Regions from separate parts of the Homo sapiens genome. Here all the other regions are linked to region 2. The links come from fine-mapping of genetic effects on gene expression. A gene starts in region 2. Each other region holds a variant in brackets. All regions are shown on one strand. Distances are between the middles of the regions.

Region 1 (7,688 bases), 34 kb before region 2:
TTTTGGGACTGGGAGATGAGAAAAGGACCAAGGACAGAATCTTTGGAAAACGAGAGAGCAGAGGGACCAAAGAGACTGAGGAAGACTGTCCAGTGAGGTAGGAGAAAAGCCAAGAGGGTGGAATGGATGGAAGTCCAGGGGCAACAAGTGTTTCAAGAAGAGGGGAGTGGTCCAGTTTCCAGGGCTGCAGAGGGCCAGTGAAACAAGGCTGAAGAGCAACCATGGGGTTAATAGCTTCAGAGAACTGTTTCAGTGGAGAATTGGGTCAAAGACAGTTAACAGTGGGCTGAACAGCAATTGGAAAATGAGAGAGAGGTTGTTAACTGGAAGATGATGAGGATAAGCAGTTGCAGGAGGGTGTTTGTTTAAGAAAGGAGAGACTTGGGCCAGGCACGATGGCTCATGCTTGTAATACCAGCACTTTGGGAGGCCCAGGTGGGAGAATCGCTTCAGCCCAGGAGTTCCAGGTGAGCCTGGGCAACATAGTGAAACCCTGTTTCTATTAAAAGAAAATAACAAGAAAAACAAAGGAGAGACTCAAATATGTTTAAATGATGAAGGGAGAAGGCAAGAGAAGAGGGGAGATAAGAGAGTCTGAAGGAAGAGAGAAAACGCTTGCTGGAGAAGGTGGGAAGGATTGGTGTTCAGAACAAGAGGAGAGCCCCAAACTGGAGGACAGCAGGACCTTCATAGAGACAGGAGGCAGGAAGACAAGCTGGGTGAGGATGCAGATGTTTGTGGGTTCGGTGGGGCTTCCTAAGGGAAGGGGTCCACTTTCTCTGGAAGTAGAATGGGCACCTGCTGAAGGTTAAGTGGGTGTTGGGTGGGATCCAAGGATTTCAGAGAAACCTAGGAGAGAACGAGAGACACCTCTGAGCAGGGGCAAGCAGGAATGTTTGGGGAAGGGTTGCAAGCCCAGCTGCAAATGGAGACCCAGAGTGAGAGTGACACACATCTCAGATTACATGACCTTTTTCATCAGTACTCAGCAGCTGGAGTATGTGCAAGTGCAGAGAGCACAGACAGCAGGATTGATCAAAATCTGGGGTTTGCCGGGAGAGCATGATAGAAAAACAATGGTGCAAAGGATTCCAGAAGGTTGGAAATAAAGCAGTTGAGGTGTTGTATCCTGAGGCTTGGCTACTAGGGGAGAGAAGTGACAGCTGGAGGGGCTAGTAGATAGGGGGAAAGAAGATGAGGCTGCGGCTGGAGGGCCCTCAGCATGTGAAGAAGGGAGATACGGTGACACAAGGCTGTGGTCAGACAGAGGTGTGTATCCATGGGACCAGGTGATTGAGATGGAAGAAACGGAGAAACAAATGGCCCTGAGGGTGAGGAGGTCAGGACCAAGAGGCTAGTGGGAAGATGGGTCACTCCATCAGTATATGGCAGGACTTGGAGTGCAGGCAATGGCAATGGGTTAGGCGCCAACATCTTTGGTAGAACTTTTACTTCAAGGTCAGTTTTGCACTGGTGTTGCCTTTCTTGAAGAAAGAGGTTAGGGAGCCTTGGGGAAAAGAGAACAGAAAGGAAATTTATTTCTTGGCCTGTCATTCTATACTTGGCCTATTTGTTCCAGAACAATCTATTTTAAGGAATCTGCAAACTTCTAGGAGGTTTCTACTCTTATTTGCATCTACAGCCTCAGCCATGGGACCTCTGCCTGCCAGTGGCGTCCCCTGCAAAGAATTAGGACTAAGATTTGTGATAGGAGCCCATGTGTGAGGATAAGACACAGTGGAACACCCTTTAATTATAGCATCTGAGACTGTCTAAGCAGATGGTGGTGACAAGGAGTCCTGTCATCTCTCTGCCCTCAGTTGTTCCATTTCATAAACTGAAGGTGGCAGAGAAAGAAAGGTTGTTCAACAGGTGACATCCCACGGCCCTTTCAGCCCTGTGCATCAACCACACTGTAATGACTCCACATGGGAGAAGAAAGTTTTGCCAAAGAAGAAAACCCCAGATGTGGCCAAATAAGACATCAAGGGAGGGAGCAGATCCTAGATGTTAAGAGCAAGTATAATACCAGGAATCGGACTGCACGGGCTAAGTCCCAACTCTGCCCCTGAAAGCTAGGTCCACTCAGGCCGGAGAGCTGCTCATGTCTACCCAGGGAACTATGGGATCTGTGCAGATGTCAAAGCCACTTGACAGCACAGAGTGTTACTTCTGGAATAATGTCATGCAAACTGACCTTCACAAAGCTCTGACTTAGTAACATAAATGTGGAAAGGGGGCTCAGAGGGAATCACCTAGCTGATAAGTGGTAGAAGCAGGACTGTCAGCTTTATGACCACACCTGAGTCCCCAGTCTGTCTCAATCTCACACCTAGAGATTTGAGGGTCGGCTAAGGCCCTGGGACCTCTAGGCGCAGACACTGCTAGGAGAGCCACTGAAAGTTCCCCCTACCACTACAAAGTAGGGGAGAGAGGCACACCTAGACTCATCTGAGACAGAGCAGAAAACAGATGGATGTTGCAAACATCACAGGTACCTCTCCCTGTCCCTGTCACACAGCTTTGGGGAGTTTTAGTTGGTTCCATGGAGAATCTGGTAGTCCCCGGGGAGAGCTGCGCAGCAGTTGATGCCGCGTGCATACACTGCCACCTAGAGGCAGTCTGAGGAAACTCCAAGTTTATTAAACCACGGGTGTGTGTGTGTGTGTGCGTGTGTGTCAGTCTGTCTTTCTGTGTGTTGGGGGAGGAAGGGAGGGCTTTTCAGTCCTTGTCTGGCACTGCTGATTCTCTCTTTCCTGGAGCCCTTGGCTCTCTTCCTCTACCCACTCGGGACCACGTGTCCTGCACGCAGCTCCTCCTCAGTCTCTTTGCAGATCCTGCTCCCCATTTCCTACAAATGCTACTTTTCCCAGATGCTGGGAACATCTAACACCATTTTCTTCCCCCTCTCATCTCCACAGGCTCTCTGCCCTCTGTGCCACTCTGTGTCTTTAGAATCCTCTGTGCACCGCCCCCACCCATCTTTGTGGCCAGATCCCTCTCCTGAGCTCCGGTTCCCCCTCCCTCACACTAGAAAGAAAATCTGATCCCATCAGTCCTCCTCCTGCAAACCCTTAGAGGTTCATTTCATGAACACAGCTCCTTCCATTGTTCTACAGGGATTAACCAGGCCTGGCCTCTGAGTGGGCTGCTCCAACCATATTCTGACCACAGGCCTGCCTCACACACAGTGACCTAGCCTGTCACCTCTGGTTTGTGACCACCTAGACCACACTTCAGGACCCACTGTGTTAGATTAGATCACTCACTTGGAATTGCCCCTGGCAGAAGGAAGCTGCCCCCCACCAGGGCTCTGCCCCACCCCCATCCCTGGTGCAGGGTGCAGCCTATGTCCACTAAACGAGTGATGGGTGGGAGTTACAAAGCCCCTTGTCTCATTTCGGGGCATCTGCTGGGTGATCTCAACTCAGAGCTCCTGTGGGATCAGTTGAGGCCTCACAGCTCCATGTCGCCCTCCACTCAGTCCTGCTCCCCTCACTTCTTGCATACACATTTCTGGACCAGCTTCTATTTCCTGTGCACTTGG[C/T]ACATGCCATCACTTTGGCTTAGAACAGCTTTTGAGTTATTTTCCTTTGCCTGTCTGAGCACAGGAAGTAGAAAGCCACCCAGCACAACCTTGCAGCCAGGCCCTTAGGAGAACTGGCCAGCAGAGGTCAGGATCTAGTACTGCCTCCACGTCACCCACTCTCTATTCTCACTGAGACATTGGTATCTCATTTATCTCCACAGTGCCAGCAACTTCTGGCCAGCTTCCCCTCAGGGCTCCTCCCTGCCTTCTGCCGGTCAGCTGTCACCATCTGCGCCCCTTCTGGGGAAAAACTTTGTACAGGTTTTACAGGTCCCTGGCTAGTTCACAGAGGCCTGAGTTAGGGTCCAGGGTCCACCCCGGTCCAGTCGATGTGCCCAGGACCGGGGTTTGTGGTGCAGACCGTGGAGAGTCTGGGTGCCTCCAATGGAAGGTGTGGCATGGCCAACTCTGAGGTCCCCAGGATGGGACAGCAACATCTGGGCACATAATGTCTTGCCACCTGCTGCTAAGGCTGCTAACTGCAAATAATAAAGAAGCAAATTTAGAACCACATATTAGCATTTGTAACTGGTTTTAGTATGCATATACAGATCCAGTTTTGTAATGATTATATTATTATTTGTCAATTTTTAAAGGCGTTTTAAACATTTATGAGACTGAGTCATTACAGTTGGGAAGAGTGTAACTGATTACATTTAATGTTTAAATGCTCAAGGAAAATCTACTTTCTAAAAATTATCATCAACTGAAGAATGACGAGGTTCATAAATTTGGCTCTCTTGAGTCATGAAGGCTGGGGAAAGATGAGAGTCCGATAAGGGCAGCCCAGAGCTCTGCATGGCAGAGACTTTAAAGACTTCCTGCTTCAAGCAGCACCCGCTTTCCCAGGAGCTGGCTGTGCTTTGGCCCCCAGGCTCCACACCCTAGCCCCTCCTGGCCAGAGGCATCTGGCCTCCTCCTGCCTCTGTGTATAAGCAGTGCTGGGGTGAGAGCTTAGCAGCAGAACTGGCCTTCTCTCCCCCTGAGGAAGCCTAGCACAGTCATGAAGGGCACAAGGGAGGGCCAATAACAGCTGGGTCCACTGGCTCAGGAAGATTGGCACCCCCCAGGACACTTAGCTGGATTTGTGTCCCTTTCCAGGCTCCTGCCCATACAGGCCCATGAGATTTCCTATGCTCCTTGAATCAAATGGATTTCTTACAGTTCTATGTGGCCTGAGTTTCACAACACAAATAGCCCTCTCTGAGGGGCTAAGGGTGAGGGCACAAAACTTCTTGTCAGTGAACTAGCTAGAGAGGTTTACCAAGCACGCAGTATGGTGCATTTTTATTACTCTGTTAAAAGTGTGTGATTAGTTAATATACTCATATGGAACAGATTATAAAAGTTCAAAAGGGTATTAAAAGGGACATTCTCCTTTATGTCCCCAATCACCAGTATCCTGTTCCTAGAGCAAATACTGTTACAAGTTTTCATGTATTTTCTCATAAATATATTATGGCAGACACTGCTGGTTTTTGTTTTTTTCCCCAAATCCATTCTTTCTTCTTCGTCATCATCTTTTGTTTTGTTTTCTTTTGTTTTTTGAGGAGTCTTGCTCTGTCACCCAGGCTGGAGCACAGTGGCACAATCTTAGTTCACTGCAGCCTCCGCCTCCCGGGTTAAAGTGATTCTCCTGCCTCAGCCTCCCAAGTAGCTGGGATTACAGGTGTGCGCCACCACGCTTGGCTAATTTTTGTATTTTTAGTAGAGATAGGGTTTCACCATGTTGGCCAACTGGTCTTGAACTCTTGACCTCGGGTGATCTGCCCCTTGGCCTCCCAAAGTGCTGGGATTATAGGCGTGAGCCGCCTCTCCGGGCCTGAAGGGCATTCTTTCATAGCAGGGACAGGAACAAGCCCAGGCTGTTCTGGCCAGTTCCTCCTGACCTCAGGCTATTGCATTCCCAGCACATTCTACAGTTATTCTTGAGAACTACAGTGAGAAAGCTGGGAGAACTGGGTCAGTCCAAGGCCATCTGGAGAACTGCTCTGTAGTCCATCCGAAACCCAGATATCCCCCTTAGCGAAGCTGGTCAATTTCATATCCCACCAACCTCCCTGGATTTGGAGGCAGGGGTTTGGTCTGTCTCATTAGTTCGAGAACACTTTAACTGACACAATCCCAGTGAGACATCATTAAGCCATAGCCAGAATCCATTTCACGAGGCCCAGGAGGACCCCTACAACTGCAGAATAACCAGGGCTGCCTGGAGCATGACCTAGCCTTGGACACAGCGATCCAGTTAAGAAGTCGCTATGGAAGTCTAAGAAGGATCCTTCAGGTGGCCCCACTGTCTGCAGCCAGTGGGCCTGCTCCTGAATTTTTTCTGCTTGTGAGGGTCTGCTCCTGAATTTCTTCTACTTGTGTGTCTTTTCTTTCCTTTTTTTTTTTTTTTGTTTTTGAGATGGAGTTTTGCTCTTGTCGCCCAGGCTGGAGTGCAATGGCACAATCTTGGCTCACTGCTCACTGCAACCTCCACCGCCCGCGGTTCAAGCAATTCTCCCACCTCAGCCTCCTGAGTAACTGGGATTACAGGCACCTACCACCATGCCTGGCTAATTTTTGTATTTTTAGTAGAGATGGGGTTTCACCATGTTGGCCAGGTTGGTCTCTAACTCCTGACCAAAGGTGATCCGTCCACCTTGGCCTCCCAAAGTGCTAGGATTACAGGTGTGAGCCACCGCGCCCAGCCTACTTGTGTTTCTATGAAATCTGATGTGCTTATCCAGGTACAGCAGGAGGTGTTAACAATTGCACACACTCCTCCCACTTGGGCTAAAAGAAAGTCTAGAGCAATATTGGTATGTAAAACAATCTTCCCAAGAGAAATGAAGGATGTCTGCAGGGCTGCCAAAACAGTGGCTGTGAAGGAGGCAACATCTGCCATGGTCAGGGACAGATTTCTTATCATTCTTTTATGAGCACTGACTCCTAGGTAGGTACCAAAGAGCTCATAAAGAACATGAACCCAGAGTCAGTTACACCTCCTGGCAGGCTCCCTAGTCAGCCTGGTGTATAGCTTTAGGCTGCTAGCCCAGTGGTGCATCTCATTTCCAGGGGTGATATCCAATGGCACCCCCAGCCCATCTAATGTGCAGAATTTCACCATCCACTAGCATTCTACTCTCTGCTTTTATGGGTTCCTTTTTTTTTTTTTTTTTTTTTTTTTGAGATGGAGCCTCACTCTGTCGCCCAGGCTGGAGTGTAATGGTGTGGTCTTGGCTCACTGCAACTTCCACCTCCCAGGTTCAAGCAATTCTCCCACCTCAGCCTCCCAAGCAGCTGGGATTACAGGTGCCCGCCACCAAGCCTGGCTAATTTTTCTATTTTTAGTACAAAAATACAAAAGAGATGGGTTTCACCATGTTGGCCAGGCTGGTCTCGAACTCTTGACCTCAGGTGATCCACCCGCCTCAGCCTCCCAAAGTGCTGGGATTACAGGCATGGGCCACCGCGCCTGGCCTATGGGTTCAATTTTTGAAAAAAAAAAAAAAAAAATTCCACAAATAAGTGAAGCCAGGCACAGAAAGACAGATACTGCATGATCTCACTTAACGTATGGCCTCCAGGTTCACCCATGTTGTCACAAATGACAGAATTTCCTTATTTTATTATTTTTTAAAGATGGGGTGTGGCTATGTTGCCCAAGCTGGTCTCAAACTCTTGGGCTCCAGCAATCCTCCCATCTCAGCCTCCTGGGTAGCTGGAACTACATGTGCACTAACACACCCAGTGTTAGATTTCCTTCTTTTTAAAAGCTGAAAAGTACTCCTTTGTGTACATATGCCACATTTTCTTTATCCATTCATCCATTGATGTATACTTATCTTGGCTATTGTGAATAATGTGCTGCAAAGAACGTGAGCATGCAGGTATCTCTTCAACATACTGGTTTCATTTCCTTTGGGTAAATACCCAGTAGTGGGATTGCTGGATCATATAAGAACTCTATATTAAGGAACTCTATACTGTCTTCCATAATGGCTGTACTAATTTACATTCCTGCCAACAGTGTGTAAGGGTTCCCTTTTCTCCACATCCTTTCCAACGTTTGTTTCTTTTGTGTGTTTGTTTTTGTTGTGAGACAGAGTCTCGC
Region 2 (7,688 bases):
GGGGGACAGGGGTTCACATTTTACTGTTCATTTGCCTTCACTGCCTACATCGACTCAGGAAGTTCTGTCCATCTTCTAAAATGTATCTGCTACCCATCCTCTTCTCGACCTCACTGCTGCTGCCCAAACCCAGGATCCTATAACTCTGTCCCTAGCCTATTTCAAGAACCACAGAATGAATCTGGCTTGGTTCTAGTCTGGTCCTCTATAGTTTATTTTCCAAGCCGTAGTCAGAGCGATCCCAGCACACCCCCACCTGATTACACCTTTCCCTTGTGTTCAGACTCTCACTAACAATAAACTCCTCAGCAAGCCAGCTGATGGGGCCCTCCACAGCTTGGCTTCAGCAAGTGTTGCTCATGTTGTTTCCTTTGCCCGGGATGCCCCCCTCTGACCCAGGCCAACCACGTAAATGCCTACTTATTCATAAGGCCCAGCACACATAACACTTCCTCTCCAAAGCCTTTCCTGAAAGCCCTGACAACTGACTGCTCACTGACCTCTTCTATAGCGTGCATGTGTGTGCGCACACACCCATAACCCTGCACAATGCACAAATGAATTGTGTAAATTTTAGTTATTTACATGTCTGTCTCCACAATATGTTGGCACAATGTGTTGTCGTCTTCATTCCTGCATCCCCAGCACTCAACACAGATCCTGGTAATTATCAGGCATTAAATGTTAATTAAATTATCTGAATTTTACTCTTAGAATTCCACAGTGAGGCAGACTTGGAACTTATAACTACTCAATTCCAATTTCAGTTCAGTATGAAAGGCAATTTTGGACAGGGCTGGCTTGATATTAAAGAAAACACTCTAGCTTGGGACTTAGGTAACCTTAGGCTGGGTCCTCGCTCTACTGCTCACTAGCAGGGCAATCTGACTTAAGGTATGAAGACACTCGGGGCCTGGATCTCATCATCTATACAGAGGAAGGAACTCAAAATTCTATGAGGTTGTCTTAGCTCTGACATCCAAAGACTCTAAAGTACCATGTGACTGCAACTACAGGGATCTGATGTCTAGAAAGCCATGGGAACCCCTGCCACCACTGTTCTTCTGCTGGGTGTGCACATTCACCCTGCCTCCTTTGCTGGGCCTAACTCCTGACTGTTCCAGGAGCTGCCTCTGGGCAGGAACTGATAAAGTCTTAATGAAACAAAGTATCAGCACTGGCTGAGTTAAATCATGTCTGAAACAAGTAGAGACAGCATCATATTCTAAACATCAAGGGTACACCTGCCCAGCCCAGCCCCACCCAGGGAATCGTCCCTCTTCAGAATGAGCTGGCCTGAGGCAGAGATAGGGGAGAAGCAAGAAAAGGTGCTGAGGGAGACAAAAAACTAAGAGTGCACATGGGCCTCCTTGCCTCAGGCCCTCAGTGAACAAGTCTTGAAAGGATGCTTCATCTTCCTTCTCTGGTCTCCTCTGTTTCCCTCTCCTTCCCTCAAAGCGCTGGTTCAGCTCATTTTACTGAGCAAATGAAGAAACTAAAGCTCAGAGAAGGAGCTGGCTAGTCCAAGGTCACATGGGCAGGGCAGGTTGTCAGTGGCTGCACTGGGACTCAGGTTTGGGTCTCCCAACTTCCAGTCCATGACTGTTTATCCTGCATCAGACACGCTAGGTCCTGGGCAGCCAGCCAAGGGCCAGTGGCCTCTAAGGCTGGAATAGCATGGCAGTCTGGGCTCAGGAAGTGGGGCCCTGCAGGTCTTGAAGCCTGTTCACTGGCCTCAGGCAAGCTAAGAGCAAGACTGCCCGTAAACAGGGCCTGGGAAATCTGCTGCCTGGAGAGAACATCATCAGCCTCTCCCAAGCCCAATCCTTGGTAAGCAGCTTATAATCTGAAGCCAAATGTCTTAAGGGTCTCATTGCCTAGTCTCCGCTGAGAAGCCATTCTGCACCTCTCTTCCCCACAATAACAAGACTCTGTCCATCCTTGTCTAGCATACTGATGATGCAGGCACACAGAGCCTTATGAGCAACAGATGCCCTTCCACCCACCCTTGTCTTCATATACCACAAAATCAGTCACTTGCAATGAGCTCTCACCTACCTGCCTCAGTCTCCAACTCTCAGCCCTGCTCCTTGGGGTGTGTATCTGCCTGGTTCTGGCCCAGTCCTACTCTCAAATGCCAGATTCAGAAACCTCTGAATAGATGCTGAAAGCAGCACCAGCCCCCACATTCCTCACTCTTGGGCGTATCTCAGGGTTTCCCAGTAGCTGATTATGTCCTCTTGTTTCCTCAAGCTGTAGGGCCCCCCACCCCTCAAAGAGCAAGCCATTCTAATCTCACTTGCACAGCCTCCTGTCTGGGCTCAGAACTCCGGCTTCATCAAGTTATATGGGTGTGGATAGGAAGGCAAGGCAATACCACAGAAGACACTGGGCTAAAAGCCAATAATCCTGGGTTTTCTCTCTTTGACTCTGAGAGTTATTTTATCCCTCTGAACCTCAGTGTCTTCTTAAAAACAAGGGCACTTTAAAGAGTTGTCATAAAGATTATATAAGAAGAGCAATTTTTAATGCGGTAACGCACTAGAAAACGGCAAAGCAGCATTATCTTTCTCTCTTTTGCAGGGCTCAGATTCACTCGTGCCCCTATAAAGACAGGATATCTGAAGCAGGACAGGCACAAAATAGTGAACTTCTGCAGCTGTGTCACTGCAGGCCTGCTTTCTGGTGAACGTTCTAGGTCTGGTGGGAACACTGGCTTGTCTCAGCCCCTCTGGCCTGCAGGCCCGCTCCATGCTATTCCTGTAGCAGCTAACACTGCCTCCTGCACTAGCAGTGCCAGAGAAGGCAAAGGACACTGCCCAGCTGTAATTTCCCTGTGCCAGAGGCCACTGAGCTCAAAGGTGAGGCTGGCTCTCTGCACAGAACCTCAGGATGGTTCTTGCCACACAAGCCACAGCAGAGAGACTTGGAGCTTCTGCTCAACATTTCACAAAGAAGCAAGAACCCAACTGGCAGGACAGCTGCCCTATTGCTTAGATAGGGACAGAGCCTGGGGCTTGAGCCCTAGAGTTCCAGTCCTATCCAAACTTTCTGAGCACCATTTAAATGACACGAGATGAGAAAATCATCAGAAATGTCTTTTGTACCCCTTCAGAAGTAATGCAGAAGGTCTCAACTAAATGACATGCTCTTATAAAAGACGGGGATATAGGAAAGGCCCACACCAAGAATAATATCTAACTTTAATTCTTGCAAGCTGTATAAACCTGGACAAGGAACTGTTTTGCATCAGTAAAATGGGAATGCTTCCTTAATTACCTTCTACAGAGTTGCAAGAATCAAAGGATTAAATGTATAGGAGGTGCCTTGTGAGGTACCTTACAAAAAGTGCAATAAATACGATGTATAATTCTTCATTTCTAGAGCAATGATTACCCTCAAAACGTTATTTGTACACAAAATGAAGAGTTTTCTGATGAATGAGTATGGTAACGAGTCGGGGTCTGCAGTGGAAATCCCAATCCTCATTCTCCAAAGCTGGGCCCGAGCAGGAGCATTCAAGACTATTCAAGCTGACTTTTTCACAATGCTTTTCAAAACAAATCTTGATTATTTTCTTTTTGAAAAACCACCTGCCAGGTTCAAAGGAAAATACATTAAAATAAAACAAACAAAAAAGCTGAGTTCTGGGTTGCTGGGCTGTGCAGACAGCATGATGTGGCAAGGAAAAGAGGCGCAGGAGCAGCTGGGAACCCCGGTCCGGCAGTGGACTCCCGGGTGTGCCTCCTTCCCACAGCCCTGGACCGGCTGGGCCTTGACTTCCCTTCCTTTGCCTCTAACCATCTCCACCTGCGCCTTCACCTCCCGCTCCAGCAACAACCCTGGGGGCAGATTGTTCATCTTTTCATTCCTAGACCTCAGCAGGGCTGTTAAGTTTACAACTGGGCTCTACCCAATTTAAAGTCAGGCGTTTGTGACTCTTGGGAAAGAGGGGGAACAGGTGCCTCCGAAACGCTGAACAACGCTAGAAACCGTGCCCTCTTAAAAGACACGACCCTAAGCGGGCACAGAGACGAGGACGAGGACTGCCAGGTCCGCACCTGGGGCTGGTCCAGCAGGGCGGCCCCCGGGCCCATGCTCCAGGGCAGGGCCCTCTCCTCTGTTCTTTGTCCCAACAATTCGCGAAGGTTGGCGCCACCGGCGTCACTCAAGGCTTGCGGGCGTGGACAGAGGGGGCCCTAGCCCGCCGCAGCAGCGCCGGGTCCCCGTCTCCGTTCTCCGACGTCTGGGCGCAGGGTTTTTCCATCGGCCGCCACGCAGGGTGGCGGAAGGGTCGTCGTCCTCGGAGGGAGCGCCAGCGCTGCGGCGGCTCCTAAGAAAGTTGGCGCGGGCCCGAGGGGCGCGCCTCACCAGCCCAGCACCCACCCTACCGGCCCTGCACTGCCTCAGTTTCCCCACCTACGCCGCGGCAGGCCCCGCCTACGGACATCACGTGCCTCGCGGAGCCCCGGCGCGCAGCACCTACCTCAAGTGCCTCCCTTCTGCCGGCCTTTTACCGCCCCGACGCCCGGGCGCTAAGGGGCCAAACCGCCCGGCCCGGAGGGTCCCAGGGGCGGGCCCCGCGCTTGCGCAGCCTCTAGCCTGTGCTGCATCGCGCGCTACCGCGCCACCGCCATGTGACCCGCCCCGCCCCCCGTGGGAGGAGCTCCGGGCCTGCCCCCGACTCGCCGACCTCCGGGCCGCGGTCTCCTAGCTCCGGTGGCGCTCGGGCGTGTGCCCCAGCGGTCCTTTTACGCACAGCGCTCGGTCGGTCCACTCCTCAAGTCCGCGAACCGAGGCCCCGACGCGTTCTTCAGGGCGCTGCCTAGGGCAAAAGAAGGCGCTGGACACCCCTAATGGAGCCTGGAAGCACCTGTCCTGCAGCCGAGGCTGGCCAACTTCCTTCCAATCTTCAGCCTGGTTTTGAATAGCTCTTTTGATAGGTTTTTTTTTTTTTTTTAACCTCCATGGGCAGGGGGAATCTAAAGGACCGACACATTCGATGAGCCCCTTCAAGCTGTATGTACAGATTCAGAATTTCCAACCTCAATCCTCCACCCACGTTCCCTTTCACTCCACAATGCCAGCTATGGGGCAGAGAACGGTGAGCCGCAGCCTTGCGGACTCCGGGCGACGCTGAGGCGGGTGTGTCACACACCGCTCATCCACTTACTCCTCCTGTTGGAAGTGCCCACTCTTTCATGAAAGTAGGAGGTTGTGTCCGGCGCGCTGGCTCACGCCTGTAATCTCAGGGCTTTGGGAGGATCGCTTGAGCCCAGGAGTTCAAGACCAGTCTGGGCACCATAGTAAGACTCCATCTCTACGTAAAAAACAAAAACTAGCCAGGCATAGTGGCGCGTGCCTGTATTTCCAGCTACTCTGGAGCTGAGGTGGGAGGATCGCTTGAACCCGGGAGGCGGAGGTTGCAGTGAGCCCAGATCGCGCCACTGCACTCCAGCCTGTCTTTAAAAAACAAAAAAAAGACCCTGTCTTAACAACAAAAAACAAAAAGTAGGAGGTTGGACTTTCAGAGACAGCAGAGCTGACTCACGATACATATTAGTGGTTGGCCGGGCTCGGTGTCTCATGCCTGTAATCCCAACACTTTGGGAAGCCAAGGCGGGCAGATCACTTGAGGGCAGGAGTTCGAGACCAGCCTGACCAACATGGCAAAACCTCGTCTCTACTAAAAATACAAAAATTAGCCGGGTGTGGTGGCGCGCACCCGTAGTCCCAGCTACTCAAGAGGCTGAGGCAGGAGAATAGCTTGAACCCCGGAGGTGGAGGTTGCAGTGAGCCGAGATGGTGCCACTACACTCCAGCCTGGGTGACAGAGTGAGATTCCGTCTCAAAAAAAAAAAAAAAAGACATATCGGTGACACAGTGCAAAGACCAGTCACAGGGCAGCATAAGGTGAAGTGGCAAAGCAGGCCGATGTCCGCCCGTCAAAGGTGGTCATTTGCCTGCAACACCTTCCCCCCTTCATCTGGGAGCTGCCCACAGGTGTACAAAGTCCAAAGGCTTCCGTGATTCACCTCCCTGACTTCCCACTCAGACTCCATGTTCCATGTAAACTTACAGCAACACTTGGGGAGCTTGATCTATTCAAGGGGGTCTCTCCTCAACCAAACTGTGAATTCCTCCACTTCACCTCTGGGACCCTAGAGCCTGGCCCAGGGACAGCGTGGAAATAAACTTAGAAAACGTGAGAGGTGGATCTAAGTTGTGGGGTAAGGGAGATCAGCCTGAGTGCCCATGCAGTTTTCCTGCAGGAGTTAGGCATATGATTTGAAGGCCAGAAAATATTTCGTATACTTTGGTGCAATGCGGGTGTAGTTTTATATATATATATATATATATATATATATATATGATATATAAGATATATATAAGATATATATGAGATATATAAGATATATATGATATATGTATAAGATATGTATGATACATATATCTCTCTCCAGAGGACCTTTCTTTCTTCTCCCTTGTTTCTCCTTACCTTGTGAAGAGGAGCGGGAGAAGGGTCAATCTTTCCATCCCAAAATAGGAAGTTCAAAGGTGAGGAGGGTTTGCAGGGAAGGCCACTTAGAACAAAACAGGAAGTCATTTCCTTGGGAAATGAGTTCTTGGAGACTGACCATTAATGACAGAGCCATTCAGGGGTTGAGGATAGCAGAATTCTGGGGTGGAAGGTCCCCTGAGGCTTTAACTGTGATGTAATTACTAATCACGTGCAAAAGTCATGCTTATATTTACACTTCGGTAACATCCTGAAGATCTGGACTTCAAAAACCAGGCTACATCTGATAGCTAATTAATATGCTCCTCACATGCCCACGTTTCTTTTTGTACAAGAAAGCACAGGCTGAACTCATTAAAAAACAGTCATTAGACCAGAAAAATAAGTTACAGGCAAGCAGGCGCAGGAAAACTTATTTACAAAGCTCAAGGACTAAAACCAAAAACCAAACCAAAACAAAAAACCTGAAGAATAAACCAAGAAAACCCACCAACCTGCCCAGCTTTTAAGAGAAAAATAATTTAAATTTTGTAAAGATTGTAAAATAGCCTTAGGTTCTGAATTTCAGGTGGTAGAAATTAAGGTTGACTAGAAGCTTTGTGATAACTTTAGATAATGTTACCATCTTGACAGGGGCTGGGAAACTTTTCTGTCCCTCACAAGTCCCATAGGGCAGGCAGAAAACACTGCTTGCAGGAGGCAGATCTGGGTAAAGACTCCTGACTTTTTCAGCGTCATAGCACTTCTAGATTCAGCTGGCTTCAGCTTCGTCTGCTACTCAGCAGTGACTGAAGTAACATGATCTTTTTAAGCTTATGGCCCTGTGGTGTCTGGGCTCGCTGGGAACAGTCAGGAAGCAGCTAGCATCAAGATGAAAATAGAGCAAAAACTGATACTTCACTTCAATATGTCAGGCCCAGGTTACCATTCTGTGGATGGGTAAAAGCGAAATCAAGAACAAGACTTGTATGTGAATCTCAAAAATAGATGTGCATAGATCAGCTTCAAATATTTTCTCTATATGCCAATATCCCTGAATTCAGCTCTTTCTTATTTGTTTTAAGCATAAAAAATCCTATACTTCCACAGTGTGTCTCAAAGCAAAGCAAAGTCAATAGGGACCTCTTTCTAAAACCTTCCATAAATGTGGCCAATGGTTTACCAGGTG
Region 3 (7,688 bases), 25 kb before region 2:
TCGTTTTGTTTTGTTTAGTGTGAGGCTCGCAGATGGGGCTCAACCCTGACTGTAATTATTCTGTATTTGTCTTTACACTTTTACCATCTATATATGGAGCTTACACAATACTGTTTGCAAGCCTTACACATTTATGTAAACTGTATCCTACTGAATGTACATTCTGAAGCTTTTTTCCTTCCTTGTTTCGGTGCATCCAAGTTGATACTTATACCTCTCATTCATTCATTGTAACTATTATAGCACAGTAAAACCTTCTACTACCCCATCATTTTCTGCTGTAAAATGATCAAAAATTCATGAGCAGTTAGTTGTCCAGGAGAAAAATCATGAAGGTAACCCTGACTGCTCTTTTTCTTACATCCTATATCCAAATAGTTCAAGAATCCTCTTAGCTCCTCTTTCTGTCACATCCTACATCCAACAGTTAAAGAATCCTCTTAGCTCTGCCTTCAAATATATCCATCATGACGCTTCTCACTATCTTCTGTGCTCCCACCTGGTTGCCACCACCATTCTCTCTTGCCTGGATCATTGCACCAGCCTCCCAAATGGGCTCCCTGCTGCCACCTTTGATCCTCTAAAATCTATTCTCTCAAAGCAGCCAGAATAATAGAAATCAGATCATGTCACTCTTCTAAAAACCCTCTAAACGAATTCCCATCGCTCCCAGTAAAATTTAGAATTGCCTCCTATCCCCTACTGCAATAACTAGTGTGTGGGTTGACCTTGACCATCATTATATAATACAGAAAGGTGACCAGGTACAGCTGGAAGAAGCATGTCCTTGAAAGGACCTCCCCACACCTCCCTAATCCAGGGATCTAACCCACTATCATCCTCAATTGTTACTGTCTTCAAAACAAAATGACAAATCCTCCTTTAAATGTAGAAAGGATTTGAAGGGTTAAATGAGAACAAATCAACTTTCTTTCCCTTCCCCTCCCAAACATAAACTGACAAATACACACCTTCTTGCTTGCCCCATGGGGCACTGGCAACCCAGAATGGAGGGAGGGCAGCTAGTGCTGGGAAGAAACTGCAGTCTGCCCTGACTGCATCCACCCTCTATCCTCACAGCCCCTACAGCCTCTTCCCCACAGCTCACCTTCCCTGCCCTCCACTCCCCTACACTGCAATGGTATGCTTTGCTCTGGGAAAGAGAGGAAGCAGACACAGGCATTGCTTTTGAGAAATCTGCATACTGGGAGAGAGGACATAGAACCAGGTAAACAAAACAGACTAGACTCCTCCGTTTTCCCCTAGCCATGCTTCGCTATCCAAATCTCTGCCTTGGAAGTTCCTCCAGCTGGGGGTTCCCCATGCACCCCTGTCCACACCATCTGTGACCCTTGCCACTGCTAGGGCCAAGGAAAAACTCGCCCTTCACCCGCTGCAGACTTGCTGAAAAAATCACTGACAAGAGGCAAATTAACAGGAGAAAAAGCAAACAAATTTATTTGATCATAATTGTATGTGAGCCCTCAGAATGAAGACCCCAAGATACAGGGGAATTGTCCATTTTTATGTTTAGGTTCAACAGATTATGGACTGTGTAGAAATATGATTGGACAAGAAGGGTATGATCTAATAGTAATAGACTGAGAGGGGAAACCCAGCAAGGCTGTCTAGATTCTTCTTGGCCTCTCTGTGCAGGATTCCTTCCTTCTGGGCACGGGGTGGGACCCTCTCTGGAATGGGTATCTTACGACAGTCAAACACGGTAGGTCAGATCATTTCTTTCCAACCAGTTTTTACACAGAAAGGGGAATGGGGAGTGAGAGGACTATTTTTAGGTTTTATGGCTGGCTTTGGGTAAAACCGGTTCTGGTTTCTGATGACCTGCCTTGGGGAAGAGGGATTCTAGTTTCTATGGGTAGCCTTGGGGGAGAATGAAAAGCCAGAAACAAGAGGGCAGGAGAAGGTCAGAGAGAAACTTTTGCTTCTGGGGCTGCTTCTGAGGCCTTCCTTTTAAAGTTATCAGAGATGATCAGGGGCATCCTGGCTCCAGGTAAGGTCTCCTGACGTGAGTGTGCTGGTCTTCCACACTGGATGCCGAGCCTTTTAAAGGGTGGTTTTCAACCTTGGCTGCATATTGGAATCACTCCAGGAGCTTTAAGAAATATTGTTGGCCTGGTGCTGTGGCTCATGTCTGTAATCCCTGAGCTTTGGAAGGCTGAGGCAGGATGACTGCTTGAGCCCAGGAGTTCGAGACCAGCCTGTGCAAGATAGTATAAGAGCTTGCCTCTACAAAAAATTTAAAAATTTGTTGGGTGTGGTAGTCCACGCCTGTAGTCCCAGCTACTAGGGAGGCTGAGGTGGGAGGATATCACTTGAGCCCAGAAGTTAAGGCAGCAGTGAGCCATGATTGCATTACTGCACTCTAGCCTAGGTGACAAGCAAGATTCTATCTAAAAAAAAAAAAAAAAAAGTTGCTTGGGGCCTACCCCAGAGATTCTGATTTAATAATTTTTACACTGCACCCCGCCCCCAACCCCCGCACCAGGTGATTCTACTGTGTATCCGAGATTGAGAACCACCAGCTTTACAGCAAGGACATTTTCTTACGTTCTTTGAATTTTCTTGCATTTCTTTGCATGTGGATTCTCAGTTTATCAAATAAATAAAAAGGAAACCTGCAAATGCTTGTCAAAGGCTGCTGAAACTTCAAGTCCAAAGCCCACAGAGATTAATGACTTTAATCTGTATAGTCCTTTAGAACCATGCTTCTCAAAGTGTGACCCATGGACCAGCAGAACATCAAGATCACCTGGAACCTGTTAGAAATGCAGAGGCTGGCCACGTGTGGTGGCTTACACCTGTAATCTAAACACTTTGGGAGGCCAGGAGTTTGAGACCAGCCTGGGCAATACAGGGAGACCCCCATCCCTACAAAAATAAAATCTGTTGGGTACGGTGGCATCCACCTGTAAGCCCAGTAACTTGGTAGGCTGAGCCAGAACAGCTTGCAGCCAGTTTGCAGCTGCAGTGAGCCATGACTGGGGCCACTAATTACACTCTAGCCTAGGTGACAGAGCAAGACCCTGTACATAAAGAAAAAAAAAAAGCAGAAACTCAGGCCCACCCAGACTGCCCACTGGAATCTTGAGAGCTGCAAATCATTGATTTTCAGCACAAACAATTTTGCTCACCCCGGACACGGAGAGACTTGAACAAACACTAGCATAGTTTCTAGCAGCTCAAGGCCCTGTCTCAGGGATAACCCAGGCCCCTTTGGGTCCCTGCCTGGGGAAGCTCAAGGCTGCCAAAAGAATTTACCATTTGTTTCAGCCAATGCCTGATCATAGGTTTCTAATCTCCCTCGTTTTTCTTGAGATGGAGTCACACTCTGTCACCCAGGCTGAAGTGCAGTGGCGTGATCCCGGCTCACTGCACCCTCCGCCTCCTGGGTTCAAGCGATTCTCCTGCCTCAGCCACCCGAGTAGCTGGGATTACAGGTGCGCGCCACCACAACAGGCTAACTTTTGTATTTTTAGTAGAGACAGGGTTTCACCATGTTGGCCAGGCTGCTCTTGAACTCCTGACCTCAGGTGATGCACCCACCTTGGCCACCCAAAGTGCTGGGATTATAGGCATGAGCCATGGCACCCAGTCCCTCCCTCTTCTTAGAGGACATACTTTATAAAATTTACAATTGTAAATCCTTTCTGTCCCTTTGGGGGATATATGTATCTTCTGCTGCACAGGAATGTGTTTCTCACTTTTTCTGGGAGCCATCCCTTTGTCATATAATTATCAGGAATGATAAGGCCGACTCCTGGTCTCTGTGGGAGGCTAGGATCCTAACTTTGATAAATAAATTTGAGAGTTAGTAGACACAGATAGCCGAATCACATTGACCAATCTCCTTACCAGCTTTTTGTAATTTTGCACTTCCCTAGTTCTATTTGAACCTCCTCCCTCCCCTCTTTAAAATTCCATCACCTCTGCACAGATTGGAGCTAAGCTCAGTTCTATACTGAGGACTCTCTCCTTCTGCAGTAGTTATTGAGTAAAATCTGTCATTATTGCCTTTAGCGTCCAGCTTTTTAAGTCTCCATTTTAATAAGGTCCTTATGTGATGTGCATGTACATTACAGTCTGAGAAGCAGTGTCATAATATTTATCATTCCCTCAGTGACTTATCATAAACAGCCCTGAATGGGAAGGAATCACGCCCATTTTGCCAATGAGTTAGATCTTTGCTTAAGATCACACTGGTAAACTAGAAATTGATTATGCCTCATGACTCAATCCAGTGCTCTTTCCAAAATGACATGCTAATCAGAAAGAGAAGA[C/T]CACACTGCACGTGAGGACCCAGGGGAAAAAAGTTGGTGAGAGCTCACAAAAAACCAAACATGTTTCTCTTGATGCATCTCCATTGGTGCAATGTCCTCTCAGGTTTTTTTTTTTGATATGGAGTTTCGCTCTTGTTGCCCAAGCTGGAGTGCAGTGGCACGATCTCGGCTCACTGCAACCTCTGCCTCCTGGGTTCAAGCGATTCTCCTGCCTCAGCCTCCCAAGTAGCTGGGATTACAGGCATGTACCACCCCGTCTGTCTAATATTTTGTATTTTTAGTAGAGATGGGGTTTCACCATGCTGGCCAGGCTGGTCTCGAACTCCTGACCTCAAGTGATCCTTCTACCTCGACTTCCCAAAGTGCTAGGATTACAGGCGTGAGCCACCACACCTGACCTCAGGTTCTTCTTTAGTTGCAAGAGAACTGTTTCACCATCAAGTGTCTTAGGTATTAAAGTTCTAAGTTTAGGTACTGAGTTATCCTATCAGTAGCTGGAGTCCCAAGGATGACAGGTACCAACCCTGTGCAAGTACCAAAGGCTATGGCCTCAAATGCTGCAGAAGCCCAGCCCTTTAAGGGCCCATGCATACCCCATGCAACCACTGCTACATGAAGTCAGGTGCAGGCATGGTCTTAGTGGGTCTTAGTCCCGAACCACTCAACCCTAACTCACTCTGCATACTCAATCCCGATGCTCTCCTACTTTCCCAGCTTTACCTCCAACATCAGTATCCATTCTTGCTTTCCTGGGTAAACACTGATTCCTTTCTCCTCCTGGCTGGGCCAGTCCCCTGGGTAAACACTATTTCCTATTTCCACCCCCACCTTTCTACTCCTGGGCCAGTTTGATGCCTTGAGTAGACTCCCTGTGGCCGAGCTCCCTGGTAGGTCTTGATGATGTCACTCAAACTTACACGACAAAATTCAAACAAAAAAGATAAAGTTATATTTCATCATCTCTATGTCCTTTCTTCTGATTTGCCAAATTAGGCTAAAAGACCAATAGAAAAACAGCTACCAATTTTAAACACCAAAGTCATTCCTCTAGGAAAGACAGCAAAATTACTAACGTGAATGACAGGATGAATTTTTCCTGGTCATTTTCAAACCACTTAGATAGCTAGAACCAGAGGAATCCCCCGAGGCACTTTACCCCTCAGCCATGGAGAATGCTGACTTTTTTTACTTTCAGCCAATTATATGGTAAATATAATTATTAGTTTTATCAGAAAATCTTATACATACAGGTGATTTCTGATGCATAATTTTATTAAAGCCAGAGATGGACATTTTTTCTAGAGAAACAGATCTCTGAGGTTAGAATGGAAGATAATGAAACAAGAGATTTCACTTTATAATTTACCTTTGTCAAACTATCCCAGAGCATGTCAATTCTATTATGAAAGTATTACTTTGACATCATATAACCAATTATTAATAGAAAACACACATGCCAAAAAACCTTAAATTTTGTAATCTTCAAGTCAATCATCAACTTTTCTTGAATTTTTGAAGACCCGAAAAGAAAAATAATTTCAAACAACAGCACTCAAACATCATATGCATTTGTAATGAGGCACAGCAATCAATTTTTTTTTTTTTTTTTTTTTAGTTAGAGTCTCAGTCACCCAGGCTGGAATACAGTGGTGTGATCTCAGCTCACCGCAACCTCCACCTCCCAGGTTCAAGTGATTCTCCTGCCTCAGCCTCCCGGGTAGCTGGGACTACAGGTGCCTGCCACCACACCCGGGTGATTTTTGTATTTTTAGTAGAGACGGGGTTTCGCCATGTTGCTCAGGCTGGTCTCGAACTCCCGACCTCAAGTGACTTGCTCACCTTGGCCTCCCAAAGTGCTGGGATTACAGGTGTGAGCCACTGCACCCAGCCTGGCAGTCAATTTTAAGCCTCCTATTTCCCAGGTTTTAGCTTAATAATCCTCATTAGTTTTTCAGATTTTTGTCAGTCTTGTTTTGGGGCTATTTTGCCTTAGTGGGCCTAAACAGAATATTAAAATACATTAATAATCCATACTGAGAGTAGAGTATAAATGGGTTTCTCACTCCTTAGGGACACGAGTGGAAACAATACATCCCATGAACACAGGTGAATGTCCCTGGTTATCCCTGAGCTGGGCAGTTTCACACAATCATTTTTTCTCTGAGGCCAAAGTCTGTGGTTTGATCATCTTAGCAGCTTCCAGAACAGAAAGTAGGTTTACTTTGTCTCCAAATTCTTTTTCTCGGTGCTCAAGAAGAATGCCCTAAAAGGAAACAAGAGATAATGTCAGTCCTCATCCTAAATCGTTCGTTCATGAGACAGGCATCGAGGACCAGCTGTCTGTCAAGCCTTTTGCTTGAATAGCAAAGGACACAGATCCAAATATGGCCTGGCTCCTGCCCTCAAGGAGTTCAGTCTTTGAGGGAAGATAGACCGGAGAAGGCCACATCCATCTGGCCTGTACCAGCAGCTCTAGAAGCAGGAAGTCAGAAGTGATAAAGCATGACAAGGGCAATCAGGGAAGGCCTCACAGAGGCACGGAGGGTAACCAGGATGTCTACAAGTAGAGATGCAGGTAAAAGAACATACCAGGTGAAGAGAAAAAAATGAAGCTAACACAGAAAGGCCCAAAGGTGTGGAAGTGGAGCTCAGAGGTTAGACTTTGGAAGGCACTGAATGACCATCTAAAAGAGAGACCCTCATTTTTCTTTAGTCTTCTAAGAAACTGGAAGCCACTTTCTTCTCATACAGTGAAAAAAAATGCACTAAGACACAAGATACCCCAAAGTTATCTAAAGTTGGAGGTAGTAAAAAAAAGACAAAATAACATGTTTGAGATCAGCATCAAGGAATCCTTGTTAGAGTTCTTTGATTCATTACATCTGGAAACTCATCTTAAAAAGAAAATCTGTAAATACACTGTGTCATTATTTATAAAGACTTAAAAAAAAAAAAAAGGCCCACCACACTGCAGAGATTATGGGCAAGCAGATCAGAAAATTATATTTACTTGCTCAGTAAACCATAATACAGACATTAAAAATACTAATAGGCTGCGTGCTGTGGCTCACACCTGTACTCCCAGCACTTTAGGAGGCTGAGGTGGGCGGATCACTTGAGGTCAGGAGTTCAAGACCAGCCTGGCCAACACGGTGAAACTCGGTCTCTACTAAAAATACAAAAATTAGCCAGGTACGGTAGCTCAAGCCTTTAGTCCCAGCTATTCAGGAGGCTGAAACAGGATAATCCCTTGAACCTGGGAGGCTGGGAGGCGGAGGTTGCAGTGAGCCGAGATCGCGCCACTGCACTCCAGCCTGGGCGACAGAGCAAGACTCCATCTAAACAAACAAACAAACAAAAACACGAACAAAAAACTAACAATATATAGTG
Region 4 (6,125 bases), 160 kb after region 2:
AGGGCACATTTTCTATTAAAATATGGAACCTCTGACACTTAGAATATTAGATCAAGGGCAACACTGGGTGAGGGTGGGGGCGTTTTTGCTCAACACAGTTAACAACAGAGATGGGACTGTGATGAATTATGGAATTGACTTTGCCAAAGAACATTCAAAATTGCACAAAGCACATATTAATGTTGGATCAATGAGTTTTCACTTCTGGGATTACGGCGGATATTCTGAAGGTTAATCACTTACCTCATAGCAGAAAAGAAAATCACAGCAAAAAAAAAAAAAAAGGAAGCCCCACATATTTTGGAAAGGGGATCCCACACCATCTTGAGTAAAAGGGATCAGTCAGGGTCTACTGGGCCATAAGACCTACCTCAGTGGAGTTCAATGGCATCCTCTCATGTTATTTCTGGAAACAGAACAGTGACAGCCCTGCAGCCCTTGGCCCTTAAGCATTTATGGCTTCTGGAGGTGCCACCAAAGATGACCAGCTGGAAATGGAGAAGCCTGAAAGCTCATGGGGAAGATTTTGCTTTCAAAAAAGTCCAGTTAGAAAAGGCACCACAGAACCCAGAGAGCAGAGGACAGGCCAGGAGAGGGCGCTGTAGGAAAAGACAAAACTGTCCTGAACTAGGCAGAGGGAAAATGACTCCAGCATTTACCTTTGTCTTCTCTGTTTTCTGGCTATGTCTTCTGATTCTTTAAGAAAAGAAGAAATATTGATCCATGAAGACATAGCCAGAAAATTTCTGCTCTCATCAGCACTTATGGCTCCCATTCTAAAATGTTATTAGTGTTACTTTTCTCAAATAATAATAAAAAAAATAAAGCCTTCCCACTGACTCAAGGTTGGAAGGGGAGCTGACCCATTTGCCTTCTAGGCTCATCCCCTCAGTTAAAAGTAACCAAGACATCAGGGTGGAATGATGTCCACAGTCAGTGGAGGGGCCTGTGCTCCGCTATTCACAGGGGACCAGCCAAGAGTCATTCAGCTGTGGCACGTGAGAAAAACGGTCCTGCCACCCAGCGGGATAACTGTTCTCTTTAGTAAGTGCTTGGAACTGTTTCCAGGAAACATAACAATTACCCAACCCAAGCCCTCACCCCAGAAAGGAGAAGCAGGGGTGTGGATTGTGGAGCAGAAGTTAAGTGGGTGCCTTCCCAGAGAGCTCCTACCTCTCCAGAAAGGGTTCTCTAGCCCTAGCTGTCCCTGGGCTGCCTCCTGACTCATGTGTCTCTCCAGCACTCCCTGCTTTTCCATCATTTCCTGTCTTGAAGACAGTGAAAGAGTTGACTTGTAGAAGAATTAAAACACTGTTTTCTTTACTAGACAGTCAAAGCTTCATCTTAAAACAAAAACATCCTTAAAATTTGTCCATCACAATCACCTACCTGTGCTGCTTGCCGGCAGCCTTCCTCTCTGCCATCTCCCTCTGCAAGGCTTGAGCACAGAGCTGTGGGGAGAAAAATACATCCATGTCCCGACTTGGCCGAAAAGCAAGGGAAAAATGAACAAACTTACCCAGTTGTTGAGGCCTTTCTTGCAGCAGAAGGGGCGATCTGAAAAAGCCAACACATGAGAAAATGTATGTTGACAGATTCTAGGGGCAGTGGCATCATCTTGATGAGCGTTTAAGGATCCTGCAACTGCAGGAAGGAAGGCTCCTTACCTCTCATCTGTAGGAGTCCTCTACCAACTGCTGCAGCTCTTGTCTGTCTTGAATCGTTTATCTATGGTTTAGAATCACTTTCATCAGACAAAGCATCATCTTTAGTATGATTTTAAATAATCTGCCATGTTCCTGTTGTCCTCACAATTGTACCCTTACACAATCTATCTATACATAGAAAATGTATTTCACATGGCTATAAAAGTACAGTATGATCAAAACTGTTGCTGTAATGCTTCCTCCTCTTTTACTTAATGCCTGCTGGGTTCTGAGTTGACAATTTCCTTACCCATTTTCAGTATGTCCCTAATTCATGCTTCATTGGGCATCTTTTATCATAAAGCTCTGTTCTCCTGGAATTAATATCCTTGCCATATTTCACAGGGCAGAAACAGCTGAGCTTATAAACAGGCACAGTCCTTTTGAAGGATGGGTTGATCCTACAACAACACACTTTCCTAAGGATGATGACAACTCGCATCACCCCTAGAACGGCTGGTATGAACCGAGTTTCCACACAGTCTGGCTGGCATTGCAGTCAGGAGATGTTTGGCTACTTCACATGTTTTGAACACTAGTAAATCTTAAGGTACGTGTGTTCTCTTGTGTGAATTGTCTCTCTCTCTAGGTATCGCTTCTGACCATTTGTTTCCATTTCTGTGTTAACTGGGTCTAAAGATTGTACAAAGATTTAAAACAAAACACTCCACCAGCGCTTCCCCAAGAGGCTGGTGTCGGTTTCTGAACCCACTTGCAGATGGGTATTTTTTCTAGAGCCAATTTCATGGTTTCTTCCACCTCTGACAGCCGCCTC[T/C]CCTTTTCTTCTCGTTCACGTTCTTTCATTCTCAGCTTCCTGAGTCGAGAAGGGAGAGAAATGCATGCACGTGATCCACTGGCCTGTGTGGGATTCCTTGTGGCATCTGAAGGCCGTGATTCAAAGGTCCCCTGACAACCTTCCCATAAATGAACCAACTGATCCTCACAACTGGAGAGAGAATTAACACCTTCCATGGGACAAAGAAAAAGCACATTCTGGCCTGCTGGCAAGTCACCTGTCGTTTCCAGCTCATCTTCATCGCTCTGTATTCCTACTCTTTAGTAAATATGAACTATTAAAAGCTTCTATGAGATGCGCTATGCGTGCTTCTGGGATCAGTCTTTTGCCTGACATAGCGAAAGCTCATTTTAGTTCAGTGTGGAAAACCAGACCTCACCAGCTCATCACAACTAAACCCATAAGGACGGAGCAGCGGATCACTCCTCGTCTGACTCCTCCCACAGGGAGACCTGATTCTCCATCAGAGGCTGATGCCAGAACCCAGACAATCAGCCTCAGAGAGATCCTTCCAGGACATGCTGTCATTAGCCCTGCGGTTCACTACTGCACATGTCCATGATTCAGGACTGGAACTCTTCTCATCGACTTTAAAGATCCTGGTTGAGAGAAAAGGCCAATCTGAGTGCTGGGTGCATCTACTGAATTGGAAATGATCCAATGGCTCTTTAGTTAGGGTGTTATGTCCTGAAAATAGGTGACAACTGCAAACCATCCTCTGGTGTCCAGAGACTTTAACAAGGTTTGTTTCACAGAGACTGAGGGCAGAAAAAAGGAAATGGCCTAAAAAGGTGGGTTTGCTGTGTTGCCTCACACTACTTGATTCATGGTTCTGATTCTAAAAATCTCACTTGATACTTGATTTCATATGAAAGACGTGTAAAATGCCTGGGTAGAGGCGGCGGCGGCGGCGGCGGCGGGCTCGGAGGCAGCGGTTGGGCTCGCGGCGAGCGGACGGGGTCGAGTCAGTGCCGTTTGCGCCAGTTGGAATCGAAGCCTCTTAAAATGGCAGATGATTTGGACTTCGAGACAGGAGATGCAGGGGCCTCAGCCACCTTCCCAATGCAGTGCTCAGCATTACGTAAGAATGGCTTTGTGGTGCTCAAAGGCTGGCCATGTAAGATCGTGGAGATGTCTGCTTCGAAGACTGGCAAGCACGGCCACGCCAAGGTCCATCTGGTTGGTATTGACATCTTTACTGGGAAGAAATATGAAGATATCTGCCCGTCAACTCATAATATGGATGTCCCCAACATCAGAAGGAATGACTTCCAGCTGATTGGCATCCAGGATGGGTACCTATCACTGCTCCAGGACAGCGGGGAGGTACCAGAGGACCTTCGTCTCCCTGAGGGAGACCTTGGCAAGGAGACTGAGCAGAAGTACGACTGTGGAGAAGAGATCCTGATCACGGTGCTGTCTGCCATGACAGAGGAGGCAGCTGTTGCAATCAAGGCCATGGCAAAATAACTGGCTCCCAAGGTGGCAGTGGTGGCAGCAGTGATCCTCCGAACCTGCAGAGGCCCCCTCCCCCAGCCTGGCCTGGCTCTGGCCTGGTCCTAGGCTGGACTCCTCCTACACAATTTATTTGACGTTTTATTTTGGTTTTCCCCACCCCCTCAATCTGTCAGGGAGCCCCTGCCCTTCACCTAGCTCCCTTGGCCAGGAGCGAGCAAAGCCGTGGCCTTGGTGAAGCTGCCCTCCTCTTCTCCCCTCACACTACAGCCCTGGTGGGGGAGAAGGGGGTGGGTGCTGCTTGTGGTTTAGTTTTTTTTTTTTTTTTTTTTTAATTCAATCTGGAATCAGAAAGCAGTGGATTCTGGCAAATGGTCCTTGTGCCCTCCCCACTCATCCTTGGTCTGGTCCCCTGTTGCCCATAGCCCTTTACCCTGAGCACCACCCAACAGACTGGGGACCAGCCCCCTCGCCTGCCTGTGTCTCTCCCCAAACCCCTTTAGATGGGGAGGGAAGAGGAGGAGAGGGGAGGGGACCTGCCCCCTCCTCAGGCATCTGGGAAGGCCCTGCCCCCATGGGCTTTACCCTTCCCTGAGGGCTCTCTCCCCGACACATTTGTTAAAATCAAACCTGAATAAAACTACAAGTTTAATATGAAAAAAAAAGAAAGAAAGAAAGACGTGTAAAATGCCAAGAACTCTAGGAAACAGGGACAAAAACACTTCAAAGAGAAAGTTCATGCACTTGTTTCTGACCACCCAGGGCACCCTTCAGCACACGGTGTCTGGAGTGGCCTGAAGCAAGGAGTGTCTTGTGAGGTGCAGAGGATGCAATGGGAGCAGGGTCCTGTCCCCACCCTAAAGGAGTTCACAGTTTAACGCAAATGAGAAGCCAGTGAGGACATCACTACTCCTGCTGTGAACTTGGGAACTAGAAACACAAAACCTGAGCCTGGAGGGAAGCTAAGGAAGCATTCTGCTCTGGAGTAGACATGAGTGCATGTGAAGCTTCTGATCTCCCATGAGAGCAATGGGGACATGGGGCAGAATCTAAAACCCATGACTGAAAGCACCAAATTGCTAAAATGGCAATAAAGAGACATGAGGCCAAGATGGAGAAGAAGGAACCCAGGACGAAGGTCAGCCTCACATTTGGGGCTCATTTCCCTCAGTTTCATCACTGAATTTCAGAAGGGACTAACTGAGATGTAAAGAAGCAGAGCAGCTTTTGCACCATGTGGAGGACTAGATGGAAAACAAGTAGACTGAGGGTCTGCTAGTGACGGTGACCCCTACTGAAGTCCACTGGCTTTGGTTGGGACCCAGAAGAGTCACACGCCAGGAATAGAGGTGGACAGGAAACACCCTGACTTTTGTAGGGACTGAACCTCACTGATAACCTCAATTGCGGATGGTATGGAGGGTGTCTAGGTGTGCTAGGACCCCTGCCCATTCCCCAGAAATAGACTCCCATCTTTTCTGCAGCAAGATAACATGCTAGTCGGCCTCAATTCATTGCTAAATATTTTTAACGAGTGTCTTACATTTAGCCAAAAAGACTAGTCATGTGGCAGGAAAAATACAATGTCATATGACCAAAAGCTAAAAGACTGTGAAAATGAATCCCGAGGTGACCCAAGCATTGAATTTAACAATGCCAGTACCTGGACCTCCGCTTGCCCCTAAAACATTACAATCAAGAATGTAGGAAGGGAAAGGAAACACGAAGATTAATCAAGCAGGAAGGACAAGCTCAGTTTTGCACCCACTGAATTTGCCACAAATATTGTGGAAAATATTCTCGGGGACATTGCAGTTGTCTACTTTGGTTGGCACATGGTTCATACAACAGTGTTTGTGTCAGTGAACATCTTACTCTTCCTCGGCAGTCTTTCTTTGCCCAGAGATTTCGCAATGACTGTTGACCTTCATCATCACCTTTTGGACTTTGGCTTGCACTTTAGCTTCTGTAGATCTCCATAATGTAAAGAGGTATTTTGGGTCCATTTTAATTCCTGCAAAGGATAAAATCCTTCTATTCGTGTGCATATAAGTGGACCTGAGCCCTTGGTTAGGGTGTAGAGAGGAGACGGGGAGAAACCTGAGGGCCAGAAGCTGTTCTTTCCCTTAAAAGGGCAAACTCATTTCCACACTATGGGGACTCTGACA

What was found. PIP is the estimated chance that this variant, and not a neighbour inherited with it, causes the effect.
Region 1: its variant is fine-mapped to the expression of PRXL2A in whole blood (INTERVAL, PIP above 0.99).
Region 3: its variant is fine-mapped to the expression of PRXL2A in whole blood (TOPMed, PIP 0.96).
Region 4: its variant is fine-mapped to the expression of PRXL2A in whole blood (INTERVAL, PIP above 0.99).

What each region holds. Positions count from the first base shown.
Region 1 is chr10:80,439,787-80,447,474 of GRCh38, reverse strand. No RefSeq gene overlaps it. Among named protein-coding and RNA genes, the nearest start is that of TSPAN14, 11 kb to the left of the region's middle. The variant C/T (reference allele first, on the strand shown) is at 3,548.
Region 2 is chr10:80,405,442-80,413,129 of GRCh38, reverse strand. PRXL2A (peroxiredoxin like 2A) reads right to left here and starts at 4,579. Exons shown (of 6, transcript NM_032333.5): 1 at 4,487-4,579. RefSeq lists enhancers at 2,286-2,785, 3,632-4,225 and a silencer at 4,511-4,800.
Region 3 is chr10:80,430,859-80,438,546 of GRCh38, reverse strand. It overlaps PRXL2A (peroxiredoxin like 2A), which reads right to left. Exons shown (of 6, transcript NM_032333.5): 6 at 1,432-6,561. The coding sequence ends at 6,448. Among named protein-coding and RNA genes, the nearest start is that of TSPAN14, 20 kb to the left of the region's middle. The variant C/T (reference allele first, on the strand shown) is at 4,299.
Region 4 is chr10:80,245,066-80,251,190 of GRCh38, reverse strand. It overlaps LOC100130698 (a long non-coding RNA gene), which reads right to left and starts at 3,433. Exons shown (of 6, transcript NR_136612.1): 1 at 3,354-3,433; 2 at 2,419-2,520; 3 at 1,668-1,728; 4 at 1,520-1,557; 5 at 1,390-1,451. It also overlaps the pseudogene EIF5AP4. The variant T/C (reference allele first, on the strand shown) is at 2,482.